Regions from separate parts of the Homo sapiens genome. Here region 2 is linked to region 1. Evidence: fine-mapped expression QTL. A gene starts in region 1. The other region holds a variant in brackets. All regions are shown on one strand. Distances are between the middles of the regions. Region 1 holds the start of UBXN4 (UBX domain protein 4). Region 2 overlaps UBXN4 (UBX domain protein 4).

The links.
Region 2: its variant is fine-mapped to the expression of UBXN4 in monocytes after LPS (Quach 2016, PIP 0.95). The same link has a PIP of 0.9 or more in monocytes after R848.

The regions. Positions count from the first base shown.
Region 1 is chr2:135,738,309-135,748,972 of GRCh38, reverse strand. UBXN4 (UBX domain protein 4) reads right to left here and starts at 7,118. Exons shown (of 13, transcript NM_014607.4): 1 at 6,962-7,118; 2 at 604-706. The coding sequence starts at 7,043. It overlaps LOC107985946 (a long non-coding RNA gene), which reads left to right and starts at 6,329. Exons shown (of 1, transcript NR_163478.1): 1 at 6,329-8,144. RefSeq lists a silencer at 6,531-6,580 and enhancers at 5,877-6,652, 6,981-7,040, 7,371-7,500.
Region 2 is chr2:135,780,747-135,791,586 of GRCh38, reverse strand. UBXN4 (UBX domain protein 4) reads right to left here. Exons shown (of 13, transcript NM_014607.4): 13 at 6,531-8,838. The coding sequence ends at 8,700. It overlaps LCT (lactase), which reads left to right. Exons shown (of 17, transcript NM_002299.4): 15 at 706-929; 16 at 1,789-2,016; 17 at 3,043-3,737. The coding sequence ends at 3,263. Among named protein-coding and RNA genes, the nearest start is that of LCT-AS1, 34 kb to the left of the region's middle. The variant G/AG (reference allele first, on the strand shown) is at 5,021.

The sequences.
Region 1 (10,664 bases):
CTTCAACCTCCTGGGCTCAAGTGATCCTCTTACCTCAGCCCCCCGAGTAGCTGGGATTACAGGCGTGTGCCACCACACCCGGCTAATTTTTGTATTTTTTTTTTTAGTAGAGACAAGGTCTCACTGTGTTGCCCAGACTGGTCTCAAACTCCTGACCTCAAGTGATCCGCCTGTCTTGGCCTCCCAAAGTTCTGGGATTACAGGCATGAGCCACTGTGCCTGGCCTATATTCTTTTTTTTTTTTTTTTGAGACAGAGTTTGACTCTGTCACCCAGGCTGGAGTGCAGTGGCATGATCACAGCTCACTGTAGCCCCAGTCTTCAGGGATCAAGTGATCCTCCCCTCAGCCTCCCAAGTAGCAGGACCAAAGGCACACACCACACTCCTAATTTTATTATTATTTTTTATAGAGACAGGGTCTCACTATGTTGCCCAGGCTAGCCTCTAACTCCTGGGCTCAAGCGATCCTCCCACCTCAGTCTCCCAAAGTGCTGGGAGTGCCCAGCCCAACATCAACATTCTTCTAGTCCAAGAGTATCACTATAAATCAAAGACAATACTTATAAATTTTAAAATTAATAAAATATTAAAACATAAACAAACCTTTTGGTATCGATTTTAATAGCAACAAAACTGTTTGAAGATGCTTCTGTAACTTTATCATCTTCCCAACTTGCAGCCATCTGTGTAGACTGTTCATCATCACCTGTAAAACATTTCAAAAATTCTTATACCAGGCTGGGATCTGCTGATTGCAAACTCTTTTCCCCTGGAAAACGGAAACCTCAAATAAAATATAATCCCACCTATACCACTTTCTGCCAAATTTGAAAACTGAATTTTCCACTAAATGAAAAGTGTGACTGCATACACAGTTCACATCATGAAGAGCAATGAAAACAAACTACACTGGACTATTTAAATGATACAAAATATTTCATAAAAGAAGCCATCTAAATTATGATGCGCAAAGTACCACAATAATAAGCAGTCATCGGTGCAGTGCCTATTTGGGCTTTTGTACATAAGATTTTATTAAAATAAAAGTTGTGGGCTGGGCTCGGTGGCTCACGCCTATAATCTCAGCACTTTGGGAGGCTGAGGCGGGTAGATCACCTGAGGCCAGGAATTCGAGACCAGACTGGCCAACACGGTAAAACCCCATCTCTACTTAGCCAGGTGTGGTGGCGCATGCCTGTAATCCCACCTACATAGGAGGCTGAGGCAGGAGAATTGCTTGCACTCGGAAGGTGGAAGTTGCAGTGAGCGGAGATTGCACCACTGCACTCCAGCCTGGGTGACACAGTGAGACCGTCTAGAGAGAGAGAAAAATAAAAAGTTTGATATCTGTCCTTTATGTGGCACCTTTCTGTTGAGTTCAACATCTCCACTCCACAGCATTTATACTCCAAAATTAATCCAAGGTAGACAGAGGCAGGTACAATTCTGTTTGCAATTTTAGACTTGCCTTTTATTGTAGGTATGCTAATTATAAAAGGTATGCTAACCTATAACTAATCTATGGTGATAGAATTCAGTATAGTGGCTACCTTGATAGAGCATGAAGGAGCCTTCTGGAATGCTGAAAACGTTCTGTATCTTTTTTTTTTTTTTTTTTTTTTTTGAGATGGAGTTTCACTCTTGTCGCTCAGGTTGTAGTGCAATGGTGCAATCTTGGCTCATTGCAATCTCTGCCTCCCGGGTTCAAGCGATTCTCCTGCCTCAGCCTCCTGAGCAGCTGGAATTACAGGTGCCCGCCACCACGCCCAGCTAATTTTTTTGTATTTTTAGTAGAGATGGGGTTTCACTATGTTGGCCAGGACAATTTAATCCACTTTGGCCTTCCTCATTGCAGTTATTCGTTTATGGTAACTCCATCCTTCCAGTTCTCAGGCCAAAAAACTAGTTTTCCTTGATTGTAACTGACTCCAGCTCCAAAATAAATCAAGAATGTAACTTTCTTACCACTTCCACTACTAACTACCCTGATCCAAGCTATCACATCTCACCTGGAAGCCTAGTAAAAGCCTCCAAATTGGTCTTCCTGCTAAGTCTATTCTTAACACAGCAACTTTCTCTAAAAAAAAAAAGATCACATCAACCCTCTGCTTAGATCACACAATGGCTCCCCATTTTCCTCAAAGTAAAAGCCAAAGTCCTTACAGGGCGCTTGAAGGCCCCATACATCAGGACTCCAACTACCTCTGTGACCTCATTCCTTTTTCCTTTCTTGCTATTCTTTTTCCTTCTATTCCTCAAATATGAAAGACACTTCAGCCATAAGGTCTTTGTACTAGTTGTTTCCTCTGCCTGGAATGTTCTTCCCCCAGATAACTACATGGTTAACTTCCAACTCCCTTAAAACTTTGCTCAAATATCAGCTCAATAAAGCTGATACTTAATCACCCACTTTAATATTACAACTCTCCTACTCACTTACTTTAAAATTACACTCTTGAGACATTCCCAAAGCTCCCTTATCTCCTGTTGTTTTTCTGTATTACTTTCACCTTCCAATATACTATGCATTTTTAATTATGTTTACTAGTATCTGTCTCCCCTAACTAGAATGAAGGTTCCATGAAGGCAAGGATTGGTTCCATTTTATTTACTGACAAGACTAAAATCTCTACAAAACATAGTAGGCACCCAATAAGTACTCTGTGGAATAGCTAAATGCCTAATATAGTAAGTATGATGGCATGCCTATAATAATTGACTCTAATGCTGTTTATTTGCATATATTTTGTGAGATGAGATTCAGGAATACCAGAAATAGGAGTTTGAGAAATTTGACCATGGAAAAGTAAACGGGGTCGGGCACGGTGGCTCACTTTGTGAGGCTTAGGCGGACGGATCACGAGGTCAAGAGATCTAGATCATCCCGGCCAACACGGTGAAACCCCGTCTCTACTAAAAATACAAAAATTAGCTGTGCGTGGTGACACACACCTGTAGTCCCAGCTACTCAGGAGGCTGAGGCAGGAGAATCGCTTGAACCAGGGAAGTGGAGGTTGTAGTGAGCCGAGATTGCACCACTGTACTCCAGCCTGGCGGCAGAGTGAGACTCCATCTCAAAAAAAAAAAAAAAAAAAAAGTAAACGGGACTAGAATGCATCCACAGACCAAATGCTCCATTAAGAATGCTCCATTAGCAGACTCCTAGATGTTGAAGATGCAAAATAACGAGAAGTTACTATTTGCAAGTGAGATCACTCTAAATGCATCTTCAGAAACCATCTGATGAGGAGAGATTAAGATTCCAAATAAATGACTCACCTACCAAAGAAAAATAAGTATATGAGAATATTCTTACTACGAACCCTTCTCAGAGAAGGCTGTGAAGAATGAGAAATCCTTTCCATTCATTCTTTTATATGTTCACTATTTTATTGCATTTATTTTGTTCTAGGCATTGAACTGTATACTAAATATAAACCAAATGAGACATTGTCTGCCTTCAACAGAGCTTAAAATCTAATGGTATACAAAATTTTTAAACAAATAGACACTATACGTAATTACAGTAATAAATGCTACTAAAAAGAAATCTATGAGAGAAAATAACAAGAGAACTCTTTATAATGGTCAGAGAAGCCCTCTCTGAGGTGACAGTTAAGCTAAAATCTAAAGGATAAGAGAGCTCAGCCATGCCAACAGCCAGAAGAGTTCACCACGCAGAAGGAATACGTGTGTAGGGAAAGGCCTATGTGATTTGGAATGTTGTGAACAATCCGGAGCTCAAGAAGAGACTGAAGAGTTAAGAGTCAAAGATGACTCTCATATTTATGGTTTATCCAACCAGATGTATGGTAGTGCCAATCAGATGCAGAACACTGGGAGAAACACAGGTTTAGGCAGCACTTACACGTTTAGGCTTGAGAATCCTGGGAGGATCTAAACAGTGATATCACGTAAGTAGCTGAAAGTATAAATCTTGCTTCTTGTGAGGCTGGTGCATCACTCCCTCACCTATACTGTACCATGTGATTAGGGTCCCAGATGTCTCAACCCTACTGGCAGTGTCTGTCCTAGACTCAGCCTAGTGGTGGCAGCAGCTGCTTGAACAGCAGTGGTGGAAAGCTGAATGGAATTACTCAATGCTTAATGACAACTTTCCTAATACTACTGAGTGGGATGACTGATTGCTAACTCTGGTATCTTTCATTTCTTATTTTTAATCAAATTATCAACTATAAAGTTAGGTGGGCCTAAGATTTTAGGAGAAAACAGCATATCCTTTGTATCGGCAGTATCCTAAGCGAAGGCACTTAAAGAGAGCAACACGAACTCAGAAGCAAAGAGTTGCAGACCCTCATACAGCCAGTCTTTCCGATGTAAAATAAATCTCAACTGCTCAAAACCTAAAGGCTTCTGTGGTCTACATTCACCAAAAAAGGCAGAAAATGGCGTCTATCATTAACAAAGTTTGGCCTACCTACCTAGCAACATTAGCCAGTGAACAGATACCTTTACTTCAGTCTCGTCAGATTATTCTACCTTCCCAAGTATTAAATGAATATCGTTTTGTTTCACTTACTTTACACAGCCACAATACTTTGAAAATCATATTAATTTGTTAGCTGAAGTAGTAGTAATCTCTCGTCTCCTAACATCAACTCTACAATATTCTTTAATTCATCCATGAAAATGTCACTAACTAAAGACCACTTGCCTAAAACGTTTCCCACTTGAACAGTTCTATGAACCAAAGTGTACTCTTGAGATCACGTCTTCCAACTATAAAGACATCTTTCAAATTTTCCATTAAGTTGGTATATTATTACTGAGATCTTAGACCTAAGAAAATCACAAGTTCTGACTTCAGAGTTATGAAGAAAGCTCTAAGCAATCTGTAAGTGTTTTGGTTTCATGAGTCCAGTATCTACATACTCCTAGAGTGACACTAATCCTACTTAGTCTTGGGGATTAACTGGCTAAAGCTCTAAAAAAGCTAGCTGGATTTTGGAACAGGTCAAGGGACAGACAGAGACTCCTTTGTGAGATTGCTAACAGTCTTCCTGCAAACATTCAAGAGTCATTATATTCTAAATACATGTAATACATGCTCATCAGTAAAAACTTAATTGAAGAAAGTATATATATATACACAAAACCCCGAAAGGCAAGACCTATAACTTTATTTAACTATTCCAATAATTTGTACTAGAGTTTCCAAATATTAATATTTGTTAATAAAAATCTCTCGTTTCTTTTTTTAAATTAACTGATTTACCTCAAGAGTGCCTTCTAGGAATGTTTGGACATTTGTTCAAAAACATGACTACCATAATCCAAATTTCTGATTTCTATACCAATTTAAATCACCAATTTACAAATTGTTCAGTTTTTTCCTTAAGAAACAAAAAAGCCAGTTTTTTTGAAGCTACTAAAAAATTTGACTGTTAAGACATGTAAATCCTTTTTGTGGCCCTAGTGCAAGTCACTTTATGACTGCTGACCTAAGTGCCTCATCTATAAAATGGGGATAATTAAACCTGTTCTATTTACTGCAAGGATCAACTGAGATATTAGGAGAAAAACAATTTAAAATGTCAAAAACCTACTAATGTACACAATAAGCATAGTGTCATTTACTTTTCCTTTCATTTTCAATCCATTTTTTTCCTTACGGGATTACAGAATTAATTTATGTAAAGTATAATATAACCCCCAGACAGCATCACAGAATCTAAACTATTCAAGCTCTTCTAATAAACAGCATTGAGCTAAAAACTTGGCGTAACAAAACAATTATAAATTCCAAATTTAATGCTAAATGACATTCACATTTCAGTAATTCGTTCTTCACTGCAGTGCATAAAGTTATAGAGCTATTAAAAGACGAGTTAATTATGAATAAACCGTTATTAAACACAAATAGTTGAAGAAATACACCTCAAATTAACAACAGCCACAAACATTGATTTGGTCCATGTAATGAGTATGAGCAGAACCGTAGAGGCAGGGAGTTCACTGTAAATCTACAAGATTTCAGTAATAAAACAGGAGAATATGGAGCAAAATAGCCTAGAGCAACAGAGAATATATGAGTTAATAAACGTTCTCAAAGTCGTGTAGATTTTAGCCTAAGAAGACAACAAAGGGAAGAAACCAAGGACTGAACGTCTATTTTCTTTGAAACTAATGGATTTTTTTTAAACTTACATTATTTCACACTAGATCCCCTACCAAGACTGCCATAAAGAAAAATTAAACCTCTATTCAGCTCAAAAGTTTACGTTTCAGGAACGTACTAACACCAGTAACCGTGAACATCAGGTGGTTTCTCTTTGTTGCTTATCGATGACACAGCTTTCTTCCCGACAGTCCACAACTAATTACAACCCAACTGCTTGCCTAATGGCCCGTTCCTACCTCCATCTAAACAGCAGTAACGAAACGGGCGTTCAAGCAGCACAAAGAGGGTCCTTGGTGACAGAGAGGGACGTCAGGGAGAGGGTCGCGGGGGTCTGGCTGCGCAGGGGAGAGGCTCGGGGCGACGAGCGGGGCTGGGCGGCTGGGGCCTGCTGGCCGCGTCCGTCGCCCCGAGCGGGGAGATTTCGGCGGGCCTCGGGGCGCTTTGGAGACCAGGGCCAGACGGTGCCTCCGGCCCGGCTGCCGGGAGACGCAGCGGTGGGGCCAGGCCCACTGTATCTCAAACGAACCGGGGAGGCGCTGAACAGCCACGGGCCGGCAGCCCGGGCCTCGCAGACACTGAGGAAAGGCTGGGGGCGCCCGGGGCCTGAAGGAGCAGGGCGCTGAGGGTCTGCATGGCCCCTCTGGGGGATCTGGCGGCGGAGTCGCAGCCGTCCCTGGGGCGCGGGGTAGTAGTGGCAATTGTGCGAGCCGACAGGAGCCCGCGTCTCGGGGAGGGCGGGCCGGCGGCTGAGGTATACAAGAGGATGAAGGTAGGCCGGAGGGGTGTCCCGGCCGCCTCTCGAACCCCTGCCTCCTTCACCTGCCACGAACACCACGAAGACCGCGCCGCTCCTTTTGGCCGTCGCGATGGCGGCCGGAATGGCGCCCTGGAACCACAGCATCGCTCCCTTCGGGCCCAGGCGCTCGCTCGGTGTGTAGTCTCCGCAGTCCCGAAGCCGGCTCCGCCCTCCGTCTTCGTCCGGCTCTGCGGCCCCCGCAACCTTGGCTGGTTCGGCCCCCACCTCCGGCTCCGCACAAGCGCGCACGCCCGTCAGCGGCACCCGGAGACGCGCGCTAGCGCGCGCGAGAACACCTCACGTCACAGTCGCAACCCGTCGGTGTCCGTGCCCCAGGACCTTCTCTCGTTGGCGAGTCGATGGTGCGGGCGCGCGCCCGCTAGGCCTCCGGTCGCGCAGTCCAGGAAGTGGAGGAAAGCGGTAAGAGGGATGACTAACCGCTAAGACACGTCGGCGGCGCCTGCAGTGAGGCATGATGGGAATTGTAGTCCACTTAGGCTTATTCGCCTCCATATTGTGGAGCATGTAACTGTGGGTTCTGAGGCACAGCTAAAGGGGGCAGTAGTGAGGGCCACTACACATTCTATAAAGGGGAGAGGGAGAAATAAGTGTCACTCCAACTGGCATATGCTATTCTCGGCCTCGTTGAGACTCTCAGTGTGGAGGAAATAGTCCTCGCATGGAACTAAATGGGCTTTGTCGGGATTAACTCCGAGGCTTTGATTTCTTCTGAACGTAGCCCAACCTTGCAGAAAAACGGGATAAAAACCGCAAGTCACCTTCTTTAATAACCTGTAGTCCATGTGCCTAAGCGGAGGAATTGGTAGAACGCAGGCCTTCAGCAATTTCCTAGACACTGGATAGAGATCATTTCAAAACTTCAAAACGCGTTAGGCTATTGCCACAGCTACTTTTTAAAGTAACACAAAGCAGAGAATAGATTATTTCTTTTCCAGCTACTTTCCATGGTAATACAAAAGAGACTAGATAGTGATTTATTTTCCAATTTTCTGGGAGAATGTCCTATAATCAAGATGTGGCGCTTTGTGATTGGCTGCCATTAAATGAAAACTGATCCATATTTAATACTTTCATGAAATCACATGGTCTGTAATAACTATTAGCTAAAGGCTTGCATGGTTTATTTAAAGTTGCATATACTATTATGTTAAATTCTACATCAATTAAATTTATCCTCCAGCAGTACATCTATCTGACAATCTTTGCAAGATAAAGGAAGTGATACATCTGAATATACCACCTTTCCTACAGATATTTTCCCTAAAAATAGCTAATTATTTGCACTCCGATTTTTGTACTTTTTTTCCCAATCAGGCCTCTCGTATATAGTGTTATTATAAACTGAGACATAATGCTGATTAGGGACAGTTGCTTCTATAGGACAACAATCCTACAGAAAAATTAGAATTGACCTTTAACATCAACTTTAATGGACTTCTGGAAATTTGATCAATCTAGAAATTATTCCAATAGAGCTATGTCTTTAATTATCTCTAATTTTAGAATTAAATAAGAATCCTTCATAGTTTTATATTCATTTGTCAAGTGTTTATCACTCATCTTTTATGAGCTAGGCATTGTGCCTGGCACTGATAAGGAGGTGAGGCAGTCAGAAGAAGGCCCTGTCTTTGTGACTGTACAGTCTAGTCAGGAAGACAGACATTGAATAAGTAATTATGAGTGATGATAAATGTCACAGAAGGGTAATTCAGAGTGCTACAGAAGTGTATGAGGATGGGACCGAACATGGGCTAGTGGAGTCAGAAAGGGCCTTCATGAGGAAATGACGTGTCGGGGAACTCTAGGTAGGTGAAGGAGAAGGCTATTCCACATGAGGCTCTGAAGCAAGCAAACACAGTGCACTTGCAGAACTAAAAAATGCCCAGTGTGGCTATAACATAGAAAGAGGAGTGTGGTACAAGTGAGGCTGGAAAGCTAGGCAAGGATCAGATGATACAGAGTCTTGAAAATCATGTTAAAAATTTTAAGACATTTTTCTAAGGATTACAGGGAGCCATTGAAAAATTTTAAACAGAAGAGTTGGCCAGGCACAATGGCTCATGCCTGTAATCCCAGCACTTTGGGAGGCCGAGGCGGGCAGATCATGAGGTCAGCAGTTCAAGACCAGCCTGACCAACGTGGTGAAACCCCATCTCTACTAAAAATACAAAAATTAGCTGGGCGTGATTGCACATGCCTGTAATCCCAGCTACTCAGGAGGCTGAGGCAGGAGAATCGCTTGAACCTAGGAGGTGGAGGTTGTAGTGAGCCAAGATGGCACCACTGCCCACCAGCCTGGGCGAAAGAGCAAGACTATATCTCAAAAAATAAATAAATAAACAGATACATATAAGACTTCCATTTTTAAATTGTATGATAGCAATTGAATAGATTGGATTTGAAGTGGAATGGCTGAATGTGAATAGACCAGGTAAGAGGTACTTATTCATGTATTAACATAAGGGAGATAGTGAAGTGGATGCTTTTGATATTCTGGAGACAGACCCAATATATTTTGTTGATTACATGTGGAGGTTGAGGAAGAAGGACTCAAGAAGGGATTTTGTGGCCAGGTGTGTTAGCTCATGCCTGTAATCCAAGCACTTTGGGAGGCCAAGGCAGGAGGATCACTTGAACCCAGGAGTTTGAGGCTGCAGTGAGCCATGACTGCACCGAGCCATGACTGCACCACTGCACTCCAGCTTGGGCGACAGAGCAAGACCCTGTCTCTAAAAAAAAAGAGAGAGAGAGAGATTTGGGGTATCTGCCTTGCAAAATCGTAAAGAAGATGGTACTGAGATAGGCAACACTGAAAGAAGTGAAGGATGGTGGGGAGGTTGTTCATGAAGGTGTGAGTTCAATATTAAACATGTGTTTGGAGTACTAGAGAGATATTCACATGCAGTGTTAAGTAGGCAGATAGCTATTAGTCTTGGAGCTCAGATAACAGTTCTTAACTAGAGATAGGAAAGTGAGATTTATCTACATACAGGGGATCAATGAGGCACTGGAAGATAACGATACCATCACTTAGGGAGATGGTGCAAAGTGAGGTGAGACACGAGCATGATTGAGGTCTTAGGGCCTCCAACGTTTATAGGGTTGTATTAAAAAGTATAAACCAGTAAAAGAGACTCAGCAGGAAAGGCAGAGTGTGGGGTGGTGGAAGAAAATGGGAGAGTGTGTGATATCAAAGAAGCCAAGGGTAGAGAGAATTTTAAGAAAGGAGAAGCAGTGGTGTGGAATGCTGCTGTTGGGTCAATTAAGATGAGAGACTAAAAAATGTCCATTGTTTTTAGTAACACAGAGGTCATTTTAAGCTTAGCAAGAGCAATTCTCATGGTTCTTGTGTACAGAAGCCAGATGGCAAAAGGTTGAAAAGTAAGGGGAGGTAAAGAGTCAGTGAGTGTGAAGGTGAGAAGGAAGAAAGGAACATTAGCTGGACAGGAATTTGGATTTGAAAAGACAGCCTTTTTAAAGATGGGAGAGATTTGCATAAAATTAAATGCTAGTGGAAAGGAACTGGTCTTAGATTGAACAAATGGGAAAATGGAAGGCCCCTCTGGAGATGGGAGGGAAAATGGGGTATACAGCACATTCTGTTGATGGCCGATCCAGCAGTCATTCTTCTACCATGCCTTCTATTATTCCTTCCTGACAGAATTCACTTTCTACTGAGAGGCAAAACTGCTGGGTGCAGTAGCT
Region 2 (10,840 bases), 43 kb before region 1:
CTGATAAAACCAACATTTTTTTTTTCCCTGAAAGATCTGAGTGTAGGAAGTGTCTAAATTCTTGGTTCTTATTTGACATATGTGACTACAGGTGATCAGGCTTCTGTGGCCTCCCCCAGCAGGCACCCCTGTGGCAGGAGCTGTCCACCTCCTCGTCCATCACTGAAGAGAGAGGCCAGGCTCTTGGACACTTGAAGGAGGTGCCAGCCTGTCTGCTGCCTGTCTTCACACAAAGCAGGGCCCCTACAAATATTCGTGCCTGTGGCCTCACCCGTGGTCTGCAAGTGGCATTGACTAGACATGGGTGACTTGGGGGAGCCCATTCTCTGAAGACACAGCACTGGCGTCCATTGGAAGCCTGGAGCTGGGGACCCATAGCCTTTCATAGCTGGTGTAAGGAGCCATCTATTCAGAGTAGTGGAGGGCTGGGCTCCATGAGCAAGACCATTCTCTGCACAGGCAGAGAAATTGAAGGACGGAGAGCTGAGTGGCTTGTCCAATGCTATACAAGCACAGAGTGCAGGCAGCTAGAACCAGCGAAAGGAGGAGAATTTGAGGCAATTTGATTCTTCTGGGTTTAGTATGATTCTTAAGGCTAGACAAAACCTAAGGCTTTTCCTGGTCTAAGTCCTGTTTTGTGTTTCGTGTAAAGGGCCTCTTGAGATTTACAAAACAAGACCTCATCTTTAGTTTTTGAACTTGTAGAGGAGTTGCTTCCATCGCAGATCGCTCGTGGCCAGACTCTGGCTCCTTCTGGCTGAAGATGACGCCTTTTGGCTTCAGGAGGATCCTGAACTGGTTAAAGGAGGAATACAATGACCCTCCAATTTATGTCACAGAGAATGGAGTGTCCCAGCGGGAAGAAACAGACCTCAATGACACTGCAAGGATCTACTACCTTCGGACTTACATCAATGAGGCCCTCAAAGGTACGACGGGCCCGCCCTTCCCCAGCGTGCACCTTCCCCTGTTGGAAACATCTGCTATTTGCAGGAGTGTGATACAGCGTCCTTGGGCCACAGTAAGAAGAGAACGATAAGCCTTCTTGCTCCTGTGGGGGTTAAGCTTTGCTTTAGGGCCGCACTCTGAGTTTTTTTCCTTCCTATGTCTAAGCTCAGCAAGCAAGCCCAGTGGCCTGATGCCACCAAACCCTAGTTCCTGGCCTGAGTCACTTGCTCCCCTTGATCCTCCCTGATGTCGGAACAGCAGTGCCCTCCTGAGAATGGTCTGGGTAGGGCCCAGGAGGAGTAGGCTGTGTGGTTGCCTGTAGGGTCTCTTAGTCTCCGAGCAAAAGTTTGAGGCTCTTGGCTCAGCCCTAACAACTTGAGATGGGACCATGAGGATAAGAGAATGGAACAAATGCTGAGTAAAAGAGCAAGCAATGCACCAGCAAAGGAAATGATTAGAAAAATCCTACCCAGCTGAAATATATTCTATCTAAGGGCTATTTTCTACAGGGAGAAGCATTAACATTCTAAGGCACTGACCAAGATCATGGATAGAAGTGTAGGTGACCCAGGGAAATTAGTCCACCCATGTTCCCGACTCCCATTCAGGGCTGAGCCTTTCTAAAGATGCTGGTGGCTCTACATCTCCATCCACAGAGGACCCGCTAACAGTCACTGCATGCAAAGAAAGGGGCAGCTTTCTCACAGAGCTAAAGCCAAAGCTTACCGCCATCTGTGAAGGCGGTGGGGAGAGCAGTAGGCAGACCTGGCTTCCGAAGGCCTGGCAGGAAGCTGCCTTATGAGATAGGAAACTTATGCCTAGTCCTCTGTGTTTGAGCAGCTGTGCAGGACAAGGTGGACCTTCGAGGATACACAGTTTGGAGTGCGATGGACAATTTTGAGTGGGCCACAGGCTTTTCAGAGAGATTTGGTCTGCATTTTGTGAACTACAGTGACCCTTCTCTGCCAAGGATCCCCAAAGCATCAGCGAAGTTCTACGCCTCTGTGGTCCGATGCAATGGCTTCCCTGACCCCGCTACAGGGCCTCACGCTTGTCTCCACCAGCCAGGTGAGATGTGGCTCTGGGAGGGAATAAAGCCTAAGGGTGAAGGGCAGGTGGAAGGGCCTCTCTCAGTCTGTTTTCTTCTAGTTTATTACCCTCCTCTCTGCTGCCCCATCTCCTTCATTCATTCAACAAATGTTTATTTTCTTTGAATGCTCCAGACATTTCCTGGGGTGGAACAAAGGACACTTAGGGTCAATGTTACACCTAGAAACCAGAGCCCTGACCTGGGAATAAGCAGGTCTAGACTCTTCTTCCAGCCCTACCACTAACTTGCTGTGCACTCATAGATAAGAAACCAGGCACATGCTTCAGGGCAGTTATAAGGATCAAATAAAGGGACCATGAAAGTACAATGCCTGCACCATGTGGGTGCCCCGTATTTGTTAAATGTAAGAGTATAAATCACTACACAAATGTAAATGACAATTATCCAGTTTCAATTATACAGGCTGAGAATCCTTCATCTGAAAATTCAAAATCCAAAATACTCCAAAATCTGAAACTTTTTGAGCATGACTGGCATGACAACACAAATGGAAAATTCAACACCTGACCCCATGTGACAGGTCGCAGTCAAAACACAGTTAAAGCTTTGTTTCATGCACACAATTATTTAACATATTGTATAGAATTACCTTCACACCACGTGGATAAGTTGCATATAAAACATATATGAATTTCATATTTAGACCTGGGTCCCATCCCCAAAATATCTCATTATGTATATGCAAATATTCCAAAATCTTAAAAAATCCCAAATCTGAAACACTTCTGATCCCAAGCAAGCATGTCAGATAAGGGATATTCAACCGTATTCTAATTGCTGATAGAGATGTTTAAAAAATACAACTGCTTAACTTCACTCAGAGGCTCCTGACACACAGTGAAAGGGGATGGGTACCTCCACCTCGGCATCCCGTCAATGGCTGTGCGGATTTGGGGTACCGTGCAGCCTCTGCTGGGGTCTCAGAGATCTGAGAACTCAAATCAGCGCCAGAGCACCAACCACCCTGTGTCACACTCTCCTAGATGCTGGACCCACCATCAGCCCCGTGAGACAGGAGGAGGTGCAGTTCCTGGGGCTAATGCTCGGCACCACAGAAGCACAGACAGCTTTGTACGTTCTCTTTTCTCTTGTGCTTCTTGGAGTCTGTGGCTTGGCATTTCTGTCATACAAGTACTGCAAGCGCTCTAAGCAAGGGAAAACACAACGAAGCCAACAGGAATTGAGCCCGGTGTCTTCATTCTGATGAGTTACCACCTCAAGTTCTATGAAGCAGGCCTAGTTTCTTCATCTATGTTTACCGGCCACCAAACACCTTAGGGTCTTAGACTCTGCTGATACTGGACTTCTCCATAAAGTCCTGCTGCACCGTTAGAGATGACTTTAATCTTGAATGATTTCGACTTGCTGAGTAAAATGGAAATATCTCCATCTTGCTCCAGTATCAGAGTTCATTTGGGCATTTGAGAAGCAAGTAGCTCTTGCGGAAACGTGTAGATACTGGTCTAGTGGGTCTGTGAACCACTTAATTGAACTTAACAGGGCTGTTTTAAGTTTCAGAGTTGTTAAGGGTTGTTAAGGGAGCAAAAACCGTAAAAATCCTTCCTATAAGAAGAAATCAACTCCATTGCATAGACTGCAATATCATCTCCTGCCCTTCTGCAAGCTCTCCCTAGCTTCACATCTTGTGTTTTCCAGAAAATAAAAACAGCAGACTGTCCTTTCTCCTATGGTTGCCCCTCCTTGAGAAAGTAGGTTCAAGAGAAGTTATGAAGTCACACAAGCCATCTGGAGCTCCGATTAAGCTTTCTCACCAGACCAAGTCTTTCTGTTGACATTATATTCCTTGGGGCAAATACCACAACATGCAGAAAGTGGCCTTTTCCCACCCCTCGAACACCCCCACTGCCACTTTTTATGCCATCCCCAGCTCTCCCATCTGACCTTGGTTCATTTAGTCTGTTTCCTTCCTCCTTTCCCAATTTGTGGTAGTTCTAAACGGCACATAGGACAACTATCCATATTCCTTTGTGTCTTCCCAAATGCTACTCCTTCCACCTAGGATGCCCTTTCTTCTGAAAATGCCTTTAAGTCTCAGCTGAAATAATGTACTTCCTCCTCTGAATGGCTTCCCTGAAATCCCCAGGCAGATTCTCCTTCGTCTGCTTTGCTTGTAAATATCCCCTATTACAACTTGACCATCCAGTTTCTATACTGGAATTGCGTATTTCTCTATCATCAGCTTCTTAAGGCCAAGGACCATGTCTCATTGTCTCTGGCAAGCACAACTTGGAGAGAGCAATGAAAAGCACAAATGCTCCTTTCGTGTGTTCACCCATTCACATAGCATTTCCAGGGCAGTGGTGGGAGCAGAGATATGTTCTTTATAATCCCCTCAAATGTGCTGAGAGACAATCTCAGTGTGAAACACCTAAACACTTGATTGGCCCATATATTACATCTAGATAGCTGGGAAAATGTTTTGTAACAACAGAGTAATTTTGGGCTGGTCTTAAAAGGATGATCACACTTGAAATTTGCTTCTTGTAAGCATTCCTTTCCCTATCAAAACATTCCAACGCCATGAGTCCCAACCTGGCAGTCAGGAGCTTGTGGTGCACAAGCATTTTTCTCCATCAATCGACTGGAAAAGTTTGTCAGATGGGGGTGGGGGTGGTTCTAAAATTGATATTAAAGACATTTGTTGGCCGGGCACGGTGGCGCACACCTGTAATCCCAGCACTTTGGGAGGCTGAGGTGGGCAGATCACGAGGTCAGGAGATCGAGACCATCCTGGCTAACATGGTGAAACCCCATCTCTACTAAAAATACAAAAAATTAGCCAGGCGTGGTGGCGGGTGCCTGTAGTCCCAGCTACTCAGGAGGCTGAGGCAGGAGAATGGTGTGAACCTGGGAGGCGGAGCTTGCAGTGAGCTGAGATCGCACCACTGCACTCCAGCCTGGGCGACTGAGTGAGACTGTCTCAAAAAAAAAAAAAAAAAA[G/AG]ACATTCTTTGGGGAGAAACTCAGTATCATAAGGTGCCAATTATACCTAAATAATCTCAAAACTCAACATCACTTTTTTGGGACAACACTAACAAAATAATATAAAGAAGTTTCATATATGAAATAAACTTGTAAGAAGAGCCAGGATAAATCTGGGGGAAGAAGATTAAAACACATTATAAAGCTAGCTTAGTTTGGTATAGCAGAGAGCAAACAGATCAATAAAGGAAGAGAAAGCCTAGACACAGAAGCATCTGCACATGGAACAGATGCCCACCTCGCAGGCAGTGCGCCTACTCGGGGCAGAGGGCCCATGAAGGCAGTGAGGGAACAGGCTCCTGGGGATGTTAGCCACGGGCATGGGAAGGAGCCAGGTCCTTTCCTTGGATACCAGATTTAAACATACAAAAAGGAAACCATAAGAATCCTAGGATATAAAAAAATTAATTTTTGAAGTGGGAAAGGTATTTATAAGCAAGACTCAAGACCTGGAGGTCATAAAGGAAAACACAGATAATACTGTGGAAAAAATTACCAAATATACTCAACAAAAGGGAGGGAGAAGCCAGGCGCGGTGGCTCACGCCTGTAATCCCAACACTTTGGGAGGCCGAGGCAGGCGGATCACGAGGTCAGGAGATCAAGACCATCCTGGCTAACACGGTGAAACCCTGTCTCTGCTAAACAAAATACAAAAATTAGCCAGCTGTGGTGGTGGGCACCTGTAGTCCCAGCTACTCGGGAGGCTGAGGCAGGAGAATGGTGTGAACCCAGGAGGCAGAGCTTGTAGTGAGCCGAGATTGCACCACTGCACTCCAGCCTGGGCAAGCGGGAGACTCCGTCTCAAAAAAAAAAAAAAAAAAAAAAAAAAAAAAAAGAGAAAATATTCACTGCATATGCTAGCAAATGGCTGTAATGTACACAGTAGTCTTATAAATCAGTAAGAAAAATATGAAAACAAAAATTGGCAAGGAATACACGGAGCTCTCACGATAAGCCAAACTGATCAATAACATCAAGATGCTCACTTCATTCATGATAAATACAATGCATACGAGATTGTATCATTTTTCATCCATCATTTTGACAAAGCTAAGAAAGTATGATAATACAGTGTTGGCAAGGGTGTGGGAAAATGGACATTCTCATGACTGTTGGTAGGGGTTCAAATTCACACAGCTTGTAGAGGAGGCAATGCAACAGCATCTTTCACAATCCAAACTGCAAACACTCTTCTTTCACTTAGCAAGTTATACAAACATATTCTACAGGTATATTTTCACAGTAAGACTATACCTCCCACTGAAGGTTGCTTACGATGGCAATGTTTGTAATAGAAAAACAAAATTGTGTAATAACCACTGACTGCCACCAGAGCATGGACAGTAAGCTGAATGCAGTACATTCATCAAGCAGAATGCTATGCAACCATTAAAAATGAGGTAGCTCAGTGTCGACAGGAAAAGATCTCAAGACTATGTAAGCAAAAAAGCAAGATGCAAGGTAGAATATATAATATGATCCCATTTATTTAAAAAATAAAGATTACATATTTGCTTATATACGCATACAAATTTTCTGAAAATTACATAAGAAATTGTTAATAGATTACCTCTGGAGAATAGTACTGGGGTAAGAGGTGAGGGGGCAGAATTCTCATTTTACAGCCTTATATACTGTTGTGAATTTTTTTTTTTACCATGTACTTTTAAAAATACAAAATTGAGGAGGGAACCTCCTACTCCAAAATTACGAAGCATTCTTTTATGTACATTTCTCTAAGAGTTATATTTGATATTTTTCAAGGCAAACTGACTTGAGGTACTCGATGTTTTTAAATGTATTTCTAATAATTATTAGTAGGGTCACACCTATTTGACAGCTTTTTTAAAAAGTCACATATTGCTGTATTTTTAAAGATGACAAACCTTTATTTAAATGAGATGCTTGCTGGAGATTTTCTTTTTCAAACTCACTTTTTAAGTTATGGAAATAATATCACTGCTGAAAGTTTGGAAAACATATATAAGGGTGCCAAAAATACCACTAAAATCACATAAACCAATCTTACCATTATTAATGGTGTGATTTCTTTCTTTACATATCTATTAATACCTAGTACTATCTATGTAGAAAATGTGTTTGCAAAGCTGAGATCACACTGTACCTATAGCTCTGGATCCTGCTGCTTTTTCCCCCAACACTTAACAGATGCTCAGTAAACATGTTAAACCAAGTTGTTAATTAGTATTGTACCATTTCTCCTCATCAAAAATTACTTCTATAGAAGGCATTTAGTTGGTTTCCAGTTCTTGAGTAAAATAAATAACACTTAATGAGTATGTCTTTACCTAAACATTGTCTGCATTTATGATTTAGAAGAAGCTACTGGATCAAACGGTATGAAATATTTTAAGTTTCTGATAAATGTTTTTCAGAAGAATTATACTGGTTTTCACTCCTACCAACAGCGCAGCCTGTGTTGCTGTTTCCTTGCCAACACTGTCACCATTTTAAAAAGTCACTGTTATTTCACAGGTAAAAAATAGAAAGTTTGCTCTGAGAAAATTTCTTCCTCCCATTACAAAATAAAGTCACAGTCTTTCCGTATGTCCACTCTAGAGTGCTATCTTCCAATCTAAAACAGAGGAACTGTTTTCAAACATCATTAGTTTAGCGGTCTCCACTAACAAAGACATACGGATAAAGTAACATGTAAGTCAGATTAAGAATCTCAACTTTTTAAGAAAAACCAAATGACTAAAGGCATATTTTTATTCTATACTTTTTGTCCTATAGGTACTCTAGGTCCTTGTGTAATTATTGAGGACAAAACGTCAGTTAAAGGTGAGAGGGAAAACTAGGTTGCAGACTAGCAGCTGTTTTGCATCTCACAAGAACAAAGGCCTTAACAAACCGTATACTTTATGCAAACAAAGTGATGCCTCACTGACTTAGGAGACAAGTCACATGCCATCAGTGTGTCAGAAAATTTCTTTCTTCAGTGATAGTTAAGGTAACCTCGCCAGCTACTTTCCAGAGACAGCTCCAGGGCAATACTGGGGAAAAAAAAAAATCAGAGACATAGGACCTCAATAGAGCCCTGTGCAACAAAAAGATGCTAGATAACAAAACTCAAAGCAAAACTAAGATCATTCCAATTTAGGGGAAAGTTTTTTTATTCAGTGTTTAAGATTAAAAACTACAAGATTTTGCTTGCAGCTGATGAGTAAAAAGAGAAGTTAAACATAAATTCTCATCTGAGTGGCTAGTTAAAATGCTCTGACACCGAGTCAAGTTACTCAGTGACATACCAGTTACTTTGGGCTTAAGAGTCTTGGAGCAAAGTAGCTCTAAACAAAACGTGTCATCTGAAGCATAGGGCTAATGGGCATATGAAATACTAAATAAGAAGCTGATGGAGGCAGGCTGTGGCAGATTTTTGGTTCTTTTAGGGTTCTAGCAGTGGTTGCCATATAAGCAAGGACCTAGCAGAGAGTTATTTCCTGTCTTTACTTTTCTGAGTTAAACACCTTCAACCCACACCCACTAAGCAGGAATAAAGAGACATTTTATAGACCAGTTGGAAAATATAAAGCAGTCCCACTTCTCCAGTAGAATTTTAGTTGAATTAAATCATAAGAGAAACAATGATTATTGCACATATTATACTTGTCACACTACATCTGTTGAGTGGAATTTCCATTCCAAGTGTTGTTTTCATCTTCACCATCATCTTGAGTCCTTAATCTATAAATTTTCCCCTCCTTTTTAAAGTCGTCTCCACGTTTTTCCAGCACTCTTTTTCTCACTGGTTCCCTGATACGAAAAAGAGGGAGCAAGGGGAAGATGTCATAAAATAAAAACAATAGTAATACAAGCTGTTTCCAACTTCCATCAGTACAGGCAACTAAGTTTTACTTTTAATGCCATCTAAAGTAAGGAAAGTCCATGGGAGACCATTATATCTACTAACACAGTACTAGACTTTAGCAGTCTTTGGTAGTTTAGCTTCATCTGATCTCTAAGTCAAGCCAGCCAGCCAAATCATATATTCCATTTCCATTGTGTTTCTTAGTGACTTAATAAGCATTAGAGGAGTGTGACCATTTGCCAACTAATCTTTCCTTTGTTATTTATGCAAGCCGACATTATCTACTAAAACATTTGTAACTTAGCACCCTAGAGACTATCCAAAGCTCCAGTCAGCTTGACAGAAAGGGTCAATTTTAAATCCTTCGCAAAATCTTCAAGAATGACTTATTTATAAACAATTAAGAATGAAGAGGACTTCCTATTCTGAAAATACAAAGGTATAAGGATAAAATTTAAGCCAACAGACTTTTATAACTCTAGAGGGGAGAGAAAAAAGGAAAAATAATGGTGGAACACAAAGCTTCACCCTCTCTTTGACACACCTTTTATTCCATCCTTTGCTCTAATCTAAGACCTTTCTCTTATTTGAAAAAAGTGTTGTTTTTTGTTCTTTTTTGAGACAGGGTGTCCCCTCTGTTGCCCAGGCTAGAGTGCAGTGGCACGATCACGGTTCACTACAGCCTCAAAACTCTGGAGCTCACACAATCCTCCTGCCCCAGCTTCCCAGGCAGCTGAAACTATAGGCACACGCTATCACACACAGCTCACTAAAAGTTTTTTTTGTAGAGATGGAGCCTCACTATGTTGCCCAGGCTGGTCTCAAACTTCTGGCCTCAAGTGATCCTTGCACCTCAGCTTCCCAAAGAGCTGGGATTACAAGTATGAGGTACCACACCCAGCCTGAAAAAAGTTTTAAAAATCCATACAACGAGCTCTCCTATATTACAGTAATTCAGTATTAAATGCTCCCACCCATTGCTCAGTAAGAGTTTTAAGATTCAGCCTTGTTTGAGCTTCCCTCTGTCCTCACTACAGTAACGTACTTAGTAGGTAACTGGTCTTCCTGCCTAACAGTTATGAAATAAGATAAAGGACAAAGCAGCCCAATCACAATACTTATATGTCATTACCTATGGAATCCATAAACACATGACTAGGGCTTCTCCATACTGAGGGCAGAGAAAAAAGAATTTCTATTACTTATCACATAGGACTGGCATGAAGATTTGTTATAATGCCTATAAAAGGCCTCATAGAGTGCTTAACAGCGGTGTCCATTTCAGTAAGTTACATTATTATGTAATTATTAGAAAGGGGCATAAACTTACTTTCTAGGAAAATACTTCCCATTAACCTGTTTCAAGTATATAAAATCTTAACAAAGATAGGAGTTAAAATTGTCAGTGTTGTATTACTATGCTAACCATTGCATGCTATCTGCTATAAAAGTTGTTTTGTTTTTGTTTTGAGACAGGATCTCACTCTTACTCTGTCACCCAGGCTGGAGTGCAATGGCACAATCTTGGCTCACTGCAGCCTCAATCTCCCGGGCTCAAGTGATCTTCCCATCTCAGCCTCCCAAGTAGCTGGGACCACAGACATGTGCCTGGCAAATTTTTAAATTGTTTTTGTACAGACAAGGTCTCACTATATTGCCCAGGCTAGTCTTGAATGCATAAGCTCAAGTAATTCTCTCGCCTCAGCCTCCCAAAGTGCTGGGATTACAGGCGTGAGCCACTGCATCAGGCCCTGGTCTCTTGGTTAAGGGATTAGTCCAAAATAATTCTCTGAGAGAGAATTTTCAAAGCAATAACCTGTTTCCACAATTTGGTCCTTCTCTGAATGATCCAGACAAGGCTGTCAGCCGGTAGATAAAAGAACCAACAGGGTTAAAATGATCAAAACAGAGTAGTTCACCTACAGTAATTATGCAAGATGACCCTGA